2 linked regions of the Homo sapiens genome follow. The protein of the gene in region 2 purifies or fractionates together with the protein of the main gene of each other region. This does not show direct contact. Each region holds a gene or a part of one and is shown on either strand. Other genes may lie near its edges.

Evidence for each region. The genes of interacting proteins can lie anywhere in the genome.
Region 1: the proteins of TIPIN (region 2) and GINS1 purify together in Homo sapiens (affinity purification with mass spectrometry; 3 studies listed by BioGRID and IntAct, with this or other methods). This does not show direct contact.

Annotation. Positions count from the first base shown.
Region 1 is NC_000020.11:25,424,673-25,431,727, reverse strand, and holds part of GINS1 (DNA replication complex GINS protein PSF1), read right to left. Parts: intron 6,518-7,055; coding exon 6,401-6,517; intron 1-6,400. UniProt on the Homo sapiens protein: Required for correct functioning of the GINS complex, a complex that plays an essential role in the initiation of DNA replication, and progression of DNA replication forks.
Region 2 is NC_000015.10:66,335,691-66,339,685, forward strand, and holds the end of TIPIN (TIMELESS-interacting protein), read right to left. Parts: intron 1,492-3,995; coding exon 1,268-1,491; 3' UTR 501-1,267; downstream 1-500.

The DNA of each region.
Region 1 (7,055 bases), on a different chromosome or scaffold from region 2:
GTGGTGGCGCACCCCTACAGTCCCAGCTACTCGGGAGGCTGAGGCATGGGAATCACTTGAACCCTGGAGGCGGAGGATGAAGTGAGCTGAGATTGTGACACTGCACTACAGCCTGGGTAACAGAGTGAGATCCTGTCTCAAAAAAAAAAAAAGAAAAAAGAAAAAAGGAAAAAGAAAAAGAAAAAGAAAAAAGAAACAAAAACAAAAACGAAAGAAGACAAATTTCAAGCCAACCACCTAACTTTACATCTTAAGGAACCAGAAAAAGAAAAGCAAGCTAAACCTAAAGCTAGAAGGAGGAAATAATGATTAGAGCAGACATTAATAAAATGAAGAACAGAAACACTCATAGAGAAAACCAATAAAACTAAAATTTGGTTATTTTAAAAGGTCAACAAAATTTACAAACCTTTAGCTAGACAGACTAAGAATAAAAGAAGGCTCAAATTACTAAAATCAAAAATGAAAGTGAGGACATTACTACCAATCCTACAGAAATAAAAAGAGTTCTAAGAGTCCTATGAACAATTGTACACCAACAAATTGGAAAACCTAGATGAAATGGACAAATTCCCAGAAACACAAACCTACAAAGACTGAATGATTAAGAACTAGTAAATTGGAATAGACCTATAGCTAGTAAGGGGACTCAATCACTAATCAAAAATCTCTCAATAAAGAAAACCCTAGAGCTGATGGCTTCACTGGGTAACTCTATCAAACATTTCAAGAACACCAATCCTTCTCAAACTTTTCTAAAAAATATAAAAGGAGGGAACACCTCCCTAACTCATTTTATGAGGCCAGCATTACCCTAATACCAAAGCCAGAAAAGATACTCCAAGAAAACTATAGACCAATGTCCCTTATGAACACTGATGCAAAAATTCTCAACACAGGCCAGGCATGGTGGCTCACGCCTGTAATCCCAGCACTTTGGGAGGCCAAGGCGGGAGGATCACCTGAGGTCGGGAGTTCGAGACCAGCCTGACCAACATGGAGAAACCCCATCTCTACTAAAAACACAAAATTAGCCGGGTGTGGTGGCACATGCCTGTAATCGCAGCTACTTGGGAGGCTGAGGCAGGAGAATCGCTTGAACCCAGGAGGCAGAGGTTGCGGTGAGTCAAGATCGTGCCATTGCACTCCAGCCTGGGCAACCAGACCAAAACTCCGTCTTGAAAAATAAAAATTAAAAAAATTATCACCACAATAGTATCAAATCAAATTCAGCAGCATAGTAAAAGAGTTCATCATAAATCAATTGAGATTTATTTTTGGAATGCAAGGACAGTTCAAGATATGAAAATCAATCAATATAAGTCATTAACAGAACGAAGGGAAAAAAACATGATCATTTCAATTGATACAGAAAAAGCGTTTGACAAAATTCAACTTCCTTTCATAAAAATACTCAACAAACTAGGAACAGAAGATAACTATACATCAACATAATAAAAGCCATATATGGAAACTCTACAGCAAACATCATATTCAATGGTGAAAGACTGAAAGCTGGCCAGGCACGGTGGCTCACGCCTATAATCCCAGCACTTTGGGAGGCCAAGGCGGGTGGATGATGAGGTCAGGAGTTCAAAACCAGCCTGGCCTCTATGGTAAAACCCTGTCTCTAATAAAAATACAAAAATTAGCTGGGCGTGATGGCATGTGCCTGTAGTCCTAGCTACTTAGGAGGCTGTGGCAGGAGAATCGCTTGAACCTAGGAGGCGGACGTTGAAGTGAGCTGAGATTGTGCCACTGCACTCCAACCTGGGCAACAGAGCAAGACTCTGTCTCAAAAAGAAAAAGAAAGACTGAAAGCTTTTCCTCTAAGTTCACTAAGAAGGCAAAAGATTTCTGCTTTTGCCACTTCTATTCAACATAAAACTGGAGTTACAGTCAGAGTAATTAGACAAGAAAAAGAAATAGGATTCTAAATTAAAAAGGAAAAACTAAAATTATCTGTTTGCAGATGATATGATCTTACATGTAGAAAATTTTAATGATTCCACAAAAAACTTTTAGAACTAATAAATGAATTCAGCACAGTAACAGGATGCAAAGTCAACACACAAAAATCAGTTGCATTTCTATACACTAACAACGAACAATCTGAAAATAAAAATTATGAAAATAATTCAGTTTATCAGTGCGAAAAGAATAAAATATATAGAAATTAAATTAACGAAAGAGGAGAAAGATTTGAACAATGAAAACTAAAAAACACTGCTGAAGAAAATTAAAGATGACATCAACAATTGGAAACACATCCCATGTTCATGGATTGGAAGATTTAATATTAAGATGTCAATGCACCCTAAGTGACCTACACAATCCCTACTATAATCCCAAAAGTGTCTTTTGGAGAAACAGAAAAACCCATCCCACAATCCATATAAAATCTCAAATAGTGAAAACAACCTTTAAAAAGAGGAATGGGGCCGGGCGTGGTGGCTCATGCCTGTAATCCGGCACTCTGGGAGGCTGAGGTGGGCGGATCACCTGAGGTCAGGAGTTCGAGACCAGCCTAGCCAACATGGTGAAACCCCATCTCTACTAAAACTATAAAAAATTAGCCGGGCATGGTGGTAGGCGCCTTTAGTCTCAGCTACTTGGGAGGCTGAGAAAGGAGAATCACTTGAACCCAGGAGGTGGAGGTTGCAGTGAGCCAAGAGTGCACCACTGTACTCCAGCCTGGGCGACAGAGCAAGACTTCGTTTCAAAAAAAAAAAAAAAAAAAAAAAAAAAAAAAAAAAAAGAGAGAGGAATGAAGGTGGAGGACCCAAAATCCCTAATTTAAACTTACTGCAAAGCTACAACAATCGAAATACTACAGTTCTGGCATAAAGACAGATGTATATATATATTAAAAAAACTTTTTTTACGACAGATGTACAGAACAATGGAATAGGATAAAGAGATAAAAAATAAACCCTTGCCTACATAGTCAAATGATTTTTGACAAGAGTGTCAAAACCATTCACAATGGGGAAAGGGCAGTCTTATTAAGAAATTATGCTTGGAGGCCGGGTGCGGTGGCTCACACCTGTAATCCCAGCACTTTGGGAGGCCGAGGTGGGCGGATCACAAGGTTAGGAGATCCAGACCATCCTGGCTAACACGGTGAAACCCCGTCTCTACTAAAAAATACAAAAAATTAGCTGGGCGTCGTGGTGGGCACCTGTGGTCCCAGCTACTCGGGAGGCTGAGGCAGGAGAATGGCGTGAACCCAGGAGGCAGAGCTTGCAGTGAGCCGAGATTGTGCCACTGCACTCCAGCCTGGGCGACAGACAGAGACTCTGTCTCAAAAAAAAAAAAAAAAAAAAAAAAGAAATTATGCTTGGAAAGCTAGATTTCCACATGCAAAAAAATAAAGTTGGACCATCACCTAACACCATACAAAAATTAACTTGAAATGGATCAAAGACCGAAATGCAAATGTAAAACAACATAATACTTAGAAGGAAATACAGGTCAAAAGTTTTATGACATTGTATTTAGCAATGATTTCTGGGATATGACTCCTAAGGCACAACCAACAAAACAAAAAAAATTGGCCGGGTGCGATGGCTCACGCCTGTAATCCCTGCACTTTGGGAGGCCAAGGTGGGTGGATCACCTGAAGTCAGGATTTCAAGACCAGCCTGGCCAACATGATGAAACCCTATCTCTGCTAACAATACAAAAAATTAGCTGGGTGTGGTGGTGCATGCCTGTAATCCCAGCTACTCAGGAGGCTGAGGCAGGAGAATCGCTTGAACCCAGGAAGCAGGGGTTGCAGTGAGCCGAGATCACACCACTGCATTCTAGCCTGGGCAACAAGAGCAAAATTCCATCTCAAAAAAAAAAAAAAAAAAATGACGAACTGGGCTGCATGAAAATTTTAAAATATCAACATGATACTGAAGGAAGAAAACAGAAAAAAAAGAAAAAAAAAGACACTATCAACAGCATAAAAAGGCAACCCAGAGAATGGGAGAAAATATTTGCAAATCATATATCTGATAACAAATTAACATACTGAATACATAAAGGATTTCTAAATCTCCACAACAACAAAACCCTATTTGAAAATGGGCCCCATAAAGGGGGCCAATTATTTGAATAAACATTTCTCCAAAGAAGACACAGGAATAGCTAATAAGCATATGAAAAGATGCTCAACATCACTAATCATTAGGGAAATAAAAGTCAAAACCACGTTTTACATCCTTTAGGATGGCTATGATTAAAAAACAGAACAAGGCCAGGCATGGTGACTCATGCCTTTGGGAGGCTGAGGCGGGAGGATCACCTGAGGTCAGGAGTTCAAGACCAGCCTGGCCAAAATGGTGAAACCGTGTCTCTACTAAAAATACAAAAATTAGCCAGGTGTGGTGGTGGGCACCTGTAATCCCAGCTACTTGGGAGGCTGAGGCAGGAGAATCACTTGAACCTGGGAGGTGGAGGTTGCAGTTGAGGTGAACCTGGGAGGTGGAGGTTGCAGGTTGAGCCGAGATCGCGCCACTGCATCCAGCCTGGGTGACAAGAGCAAAACTCTGTCTCAAAAACGAAACAAAATAACCCCAAAATATTTAGTGTTGGTGAGGATGTGGAGAAAATGGAACCCTTGCGTAATGTTGGAATGTAAAATGGTATGGCTGCTGTGGAAAGCAGTATGACAATTCCTCAAACATAGTATTACCATATGATCTAGTAATTCCACTCTGGATATATGCCCCCCAAAATTAAAAGCAGAGTCTCAAAGAGATTTATATATCCACGTTCATAGCAGCATTGATCATAAAATGATAGCTAAAATAAAGAAGCAACCCAGTGTCCATAGATGGATAAATGGATAAGCAAAATGTGGTATAGCCAGAAAAAGGAATATTACTCATCCTTAAAAAGGAAGGAAATTCTGGGCCAGGCGCAGTGGCTCACACCTGTAATCGCAGCACTTTGGGAGGCCGAGGAGGGAGGATCACCTGAGCTCGGGAGTTCGAGACCAGCCTGACCAACATGGAGAAACCCAGTCTCTACTAAAGATACAAAATTAGCCAGGGGTGGTGGCACATGCCTGTAATCCCAGCTGTTTGGGAGGCTGAGGCCAGAGAATCACTTGAACCCAGGAGGCGGAGGTTGCGGTGAGCCAAGATCGCACCACTAGACTCCAGCCTGGGCAACAAGAGTGAAACTCCATCTCAAAAAAAAGAAAAAAAAAATTGTGCAATGGTGCAATCTCAGCTCACCGCAACCTCCTTCTCCCCGGTTCTAGCGATTATCCTGCCTCAGCCTCCCAAGTAGCTGGGATTACAGGCATGTGCCCGGCTAATTTTGTATTTTTAGTAGAGACGGGGTTTCTCCATGTTGGTCAGGCTAGTCTTGAACTCCCGACCTCAGGTGATCCTCCTTCCTCAGCCTCCCAAAGCGCTAGGATTACAAGCATGAGCCACCGTGCCCAGCCGGAAATTCTGACACAAATTCTTACCACAGATACCACAGAAATGAACCCTGAAGATATTACGCTAAGTGAAATAAGCCAGTCACAAAAAGACAAATAACTTGTCATTTGTAGCTTCTCAGAAATTATTCTCTAACGAGAACAAAAGAAAACAAAAAGACAAATACTATATGATTCCACTCACATGAGGTAGTTACAGTAGTCAAAATCAGAGACAGACAGTAGAATGGTGGTTGCTGGGGGATGGGAGGCAGGGGTATTGAGAAGTTATTGTTTAATGGGTAGAGTTTCAGTTTTATAAGATGAAAAAAATCTGGATATGGAATGGTGGTGACAGCTGCAAAACAATATGAAAGTTGCAAAACAATATGGAATGTTAAACAATATTTAATACCACTTAAATGTACATTTAAAAATAGCTAAGATGGTAGATTTTATATGTATTTTATTATTTAAAAAATAGAAAAAATAAACAAAATGAAACAAAAATACCTCTTGTTTTGACTAATCCACCAACTTGAAAGACATTTGCTTTTTTTACTTTCAAAATTTAGCATTGATTTTCCATTTTGATTTAACTTTGTTTTGACATTTGTTTCATTTTACTTTCAAAATTTAGGGACTGATTTTCCATTTTGATTTAACTTTGTTTTGACATTTGTTTCATTTTACTTTCAAAATTTAGGGACTGATTTTCCATTTTGATTTAACTTTGTTTTAGTAATAGCTAAAACATTTATAGGGTTCCATACTCAAAACTATTAAAACAGGTATATTCAGAAAATTATAGCTGTTCCATCGTATTCTGTCATCCCCCTACAGGTAGCTTGTTTGATTTGGTCTATGCTTCTTTTCTATTTTAATAGAAGCTAACACATATTCATATACTCCTCTCTTCTTAAAAGGTAGCACAATTTACACATTAAAGAAAAATGCATTTTAAAAAGATATACATACTTCAATATATAGGCTTTTTGGTGGTTTCATATCCTGTGTAATGTCCAAACCTTCATCTCCTCCCAGTGACCTCATATAAGTAGCAAGAGATCTTTTATAATTATTAAACCACTCCATCTGCAAACATAGAGATGATCATTTGACAAAATTCTAAGAAAACTTGCACACACTGAATATCATCCATTCGAAAACAGTACACATCCCAACACAAATCACTGTTGTGACCATTCATTCATTAATGCTAAAATATTAATTGCCTCCTATGATATAGGCATTGGTCTGGGTACTTACAATGAATCATTCAATAAAGTGAACAAAAATCTCTGTTCTCAGAGAGCTTACATTTCAGCATACTTAATAATAAACCTTAGGAATCTTTGACCAGAAACAGAACCATGAAAAAGACGCCATTTCAGAATTATATCTTCAAACTCTGCATTGATGCTATTTCTGAAAACTATAAAACATTGTTAAGAAAACCCAAATGTCCACCAGCTGATGAATGGATATGTGCCCATATGATGGAACATTATTTAACCATAAGTAACAATGAAGTTCTGAAACGTATTGCCATTACCACATGAAAGACAGAAGGCCACATATTGCATGATTCTACTCATATGAAAAACCTGTAATAGGTAAATCTATAGAGACA
Region 2 (3,995 bases):
CTGTGGGTAGGGGTGAGGGGGTGGGGTGGGAGAGCCTTTCCTAACACTAACCTTTCTTATTTGTAACTACCCCCTCTACCTGGCAGGAAGAACTCCAATCAGGTGTTCTCACGATTTGGCCCTAACACATCTAACCTCAAAATCAGCATTCCTAAAATCTGCCTTATCCCCTTAATCTTATTTCTGTATCATTATTGTACATGTGCTTCCCAATACTTGGAATCTCCTCCACCAAAAGCAAAGTCTTTCCTGTAAATCCTCCCGAGATGCTATGTTCCCCACGATACTTTGCAAGTTTCACTCCAACTAGTCAGTAAGTTCCCAAAAAGCATTCTTTGAACTACCCTAGCACCTATGAGGGCCAGGCAATGTATCGGCCTTTCATGTGACCTTTTAACTATTAAAGTAACTCCTTAGAAAACATGTAAAAATCTTGTATTTACCAAAAGTGTAAACTGCAGAACTATATAGCAATGAAAACCTCCCATAAAGCCTGTAGATAGTTTTTAAGATAATTTTTACTTCTTTTAAAAAATTGACATTAATATTCAGTATATATGTACATCTCAAAACTTCACCCAGGCTGGGCGCGGTGGCTCACACCTGTAATCCCAGCACTTTGGGAGGCCGAGGGGGGCGGATTACCTGAGGTTAGGAGTTTGAGACCAGCCTGGCCAACATGGTGAAACCTCATCTCTACTAAAAGTACAAAAATTAGCCAAGCGTGGTGGCACACGCCTGTAGTCCCAGCTACTCGGGAGGCTAAGGCAGGAGAATTGCTTGAGCCCAGGAGGCAGAGGTTGCAGTGAGCCAAGACTGTGCCACTGCACTCCAGCCTGGCCAACAGAGTGAGACTCTGTGTCAAAAAAAACAAAACAAAACAAAACAAAAAACTTCAACTAGACTACTCTGGGCACACTGTCCATGGATTAGCCCTGCTTTGCAAGGAGCAGTAAAAAACAGAAACAAAACCTCCCAACTTAGTGAAAACAAGGCATTCAATGACAGACCAGCAGCAGAAACTGCTTATTACCTCCTAATCATTTTATGAAGAAATACCTATATAAAAACAAACACTAAAGAGAACAAATAGATTTAACTAAAGTGACAAGCATAATTATAAATAAATACCAGATTATCAGATTTTAAACAATAATCTATAACAGTTTTACTATCTAAGGATTTTCACTCCAAGAAGAAAAAATACATAGTAACGCCAAGCTTGCAGGACGATGACTTAACAGATACATTTTCTCTTAATGGAAACTTATCTAGCTTCAGTAATATTTCTGGATGTAGCATCAAGTTGCTGTTGCACATTTTTAAAAGACTGGTCCAGCAGTGTTTCCTCTTCATTTAAAGTATTGGCAATAGCATCATTACATGGATTGTCCAGAATGTCTTCGTTTAATCCATTTGACTCCTCCTTTTGATCCTCATCAGTATTAACCTCTTCAACCGTGTGTGCCCTGGGTGTATTCATTAACATATCTGAAAGAAATCATACCATTATTATTCATTATAAGTACCTGATCCAATCTTACCGCATGAGTACAAACCTCTTCAAAAGCTCAGTTTAGTAAAATGAAGTCTAAGATCACTTAATGTTAATTATGATCACTTTCTTCTAAATATATCTTTTTTTTTTTTTTTGAGATGGAGTCTCGCTCCATCACTTTGGCTGGAGTGCAATCGCACGATCTGGGCTCACTGCAACCTCCACCGGGTTCAAGTGATTCTCCTGCCTCAGCCTCCCGAGTAGCTGGGATTACAGGTACCCGCCACTACACCCGGCTAATTTTGGTATTTTTAGAAGAGACAGGGTTTCACTATGTTGGCCAGGCTGGTCTCGAACTCCTGACCTCAGGTGATCCACCCGCCTCAGGCTCCCAAAGTCCTGGGATTACAGGCGTGAGCTACCACGCCTAGCCAATAAGCCCATTTTTATACAATTAAGATCCATTTTAAATGCAAGAGAGGCCAGGCCCGATCCCAACAATGTGGGAGGATCATTGGAGCTCAGGAGTTCAGGACCAGCCTGGGCCACATAGTGAGACCCCATGTCAACAAAACATCAAAAAAAATAAAATAAAAAAAAAAATAATTAGCTGGCTATGGTGGCGAACCATGATCGTGCCACTGCACTCCAGCCTGGGTGACAAAGTGAGATCCTATAACCAAAAAAAAACAAAAAAAAAGCAAAATGGTTTTGAATGTTATTCAACTCACACTCTTGGATCATAGTCAAATGTAACTGTTCTTATTCAAAATCAAACTACTATTGGCCAGGCACAGTGGATCATGCCTGTAATCTCAGCACTTTGGGAGGCTGAGGCAGGCAGATCACTCAAGGTCAGGAGTTTGAAACCAGTCTGGCCAATATGGTGAAACCCTGCCTCTACAAAAAATACAAAAATTAGCCGGACATGGTGGAGCACGCCTGTAATCCCAGCTACTCGGGAGGCTGGGACAGGAGAATCGCTTGAACCTAGGAGGCGGAGGTTGCAGTGGGCCGAGATCAGCAACTGCACTCCAGCCTGGGCAATACAGTGAGGCCCCATCTAAAAAAACAAAACTGAAAACTACTAGAAAGAGGTCTAATAAAAACCAAGTGCGTTTAGGTTTTATGTCAGAGTGATCCATAAGAAACTTTAAAGTACTTATTTCCATTTGGACAAATTTTAAGTTGTATATGATAAACAGAGGTGAGCTTTAAATACCAACTGCCAGGTATACTTGATATTGACAGCAAAGAAGCCACTGCCATCAAGAATAATGCTATCTTCATGTAATGTTTCACATGGTACTAATAAAACATCCATTTATAAAGAAAAAGTAAATTGGCCAGGTGCGGTGGCTCACACCTGTAATCCCAGCACTTTAGGAGACCGAGGTGGGTGGATCACGAGGTTAGGGGATCGAGACCATCCTGGCTGATACGGTGAAACCCTGTCTCTACTAAAAATACAAAAAATTAGCCAGGCGTGGTGGCAGGCACCTGTAGTCCCAGCTACTCGGGAGGCTGAGGCACGAGAATGGCATGGACACGGGAGGCGGGGCTTGCAGTGAGCCGAGATCACGCCATTGCACTCCAGCCTGGGTGACAGAGCAAGACTCCGTCTCAAAAAAAAAAAAAAAAAAAAAAGGAAAAAGTAAATTCAGCTGGGCATGGTGGCTCACACCTGTAATCCCAGGACTTTGGGAGGCTGAGGCAGGCAGATCACTAGGTCAGGAGTTCAAGACCACCCTGGCCAACACAGTGAAATCCCTTCTCTACTAAAAATACAAAAATTAGCCAGGCATGGGGGCACGCACTTGTAGTCCTAGCTACTTGAGGAGGCTGAAGCAGGGGAACTGCTTGAACCCGGGAGGCAGAGGTTGCAGTGAGCCAAGATCACGCCACTGCACTCCAGCCTGAGCTACAGAGCAAGACTCCATCTCAAAAAAAAAAAAAAAAAAAAAAAAAAGCAAAAAGAAAAAGTAAATTCATCTTAACTGAAAAAAAAAGTAGCCAAAATAATTTTCACTTAAAAATGTTAATATATTGGGTGAAACTTCGTTTACAACATGGTATCTAGTTATTATAATTCTTTTTTTTTTTGTAGAGACGGGGACTCACTATGTTGCCCAGGCTGGTCTTGAACTCCCAGGCTCAAGTGATCTGCCCACCTCAGCCTCCCAAAGTGCTGGGATTACAGGCAAGAGACACTGTGCTGGGCCTATAATTCTTATTTTTCCATTTTGAAAGGAAAAACTGAATGGGAAATTAAGAAAGATATACGCAATCCTGCTTACTTCATTCAAAACCAACTTGCAATTCTTTCTAAATATAGTTTTAACAAATTTGGTTATATAGTTTCCAAACCCACAATGTGTGTTAAAAACAGCAAATTTAGGCCAGGTACACTGGCTCATACCTGCAATCCCAGCACTTTGGAAGCCCAATGCTGGAGGATTGCTTGAGACTAGAAGTTCAAGGCTGCAGTGAGTCAAGA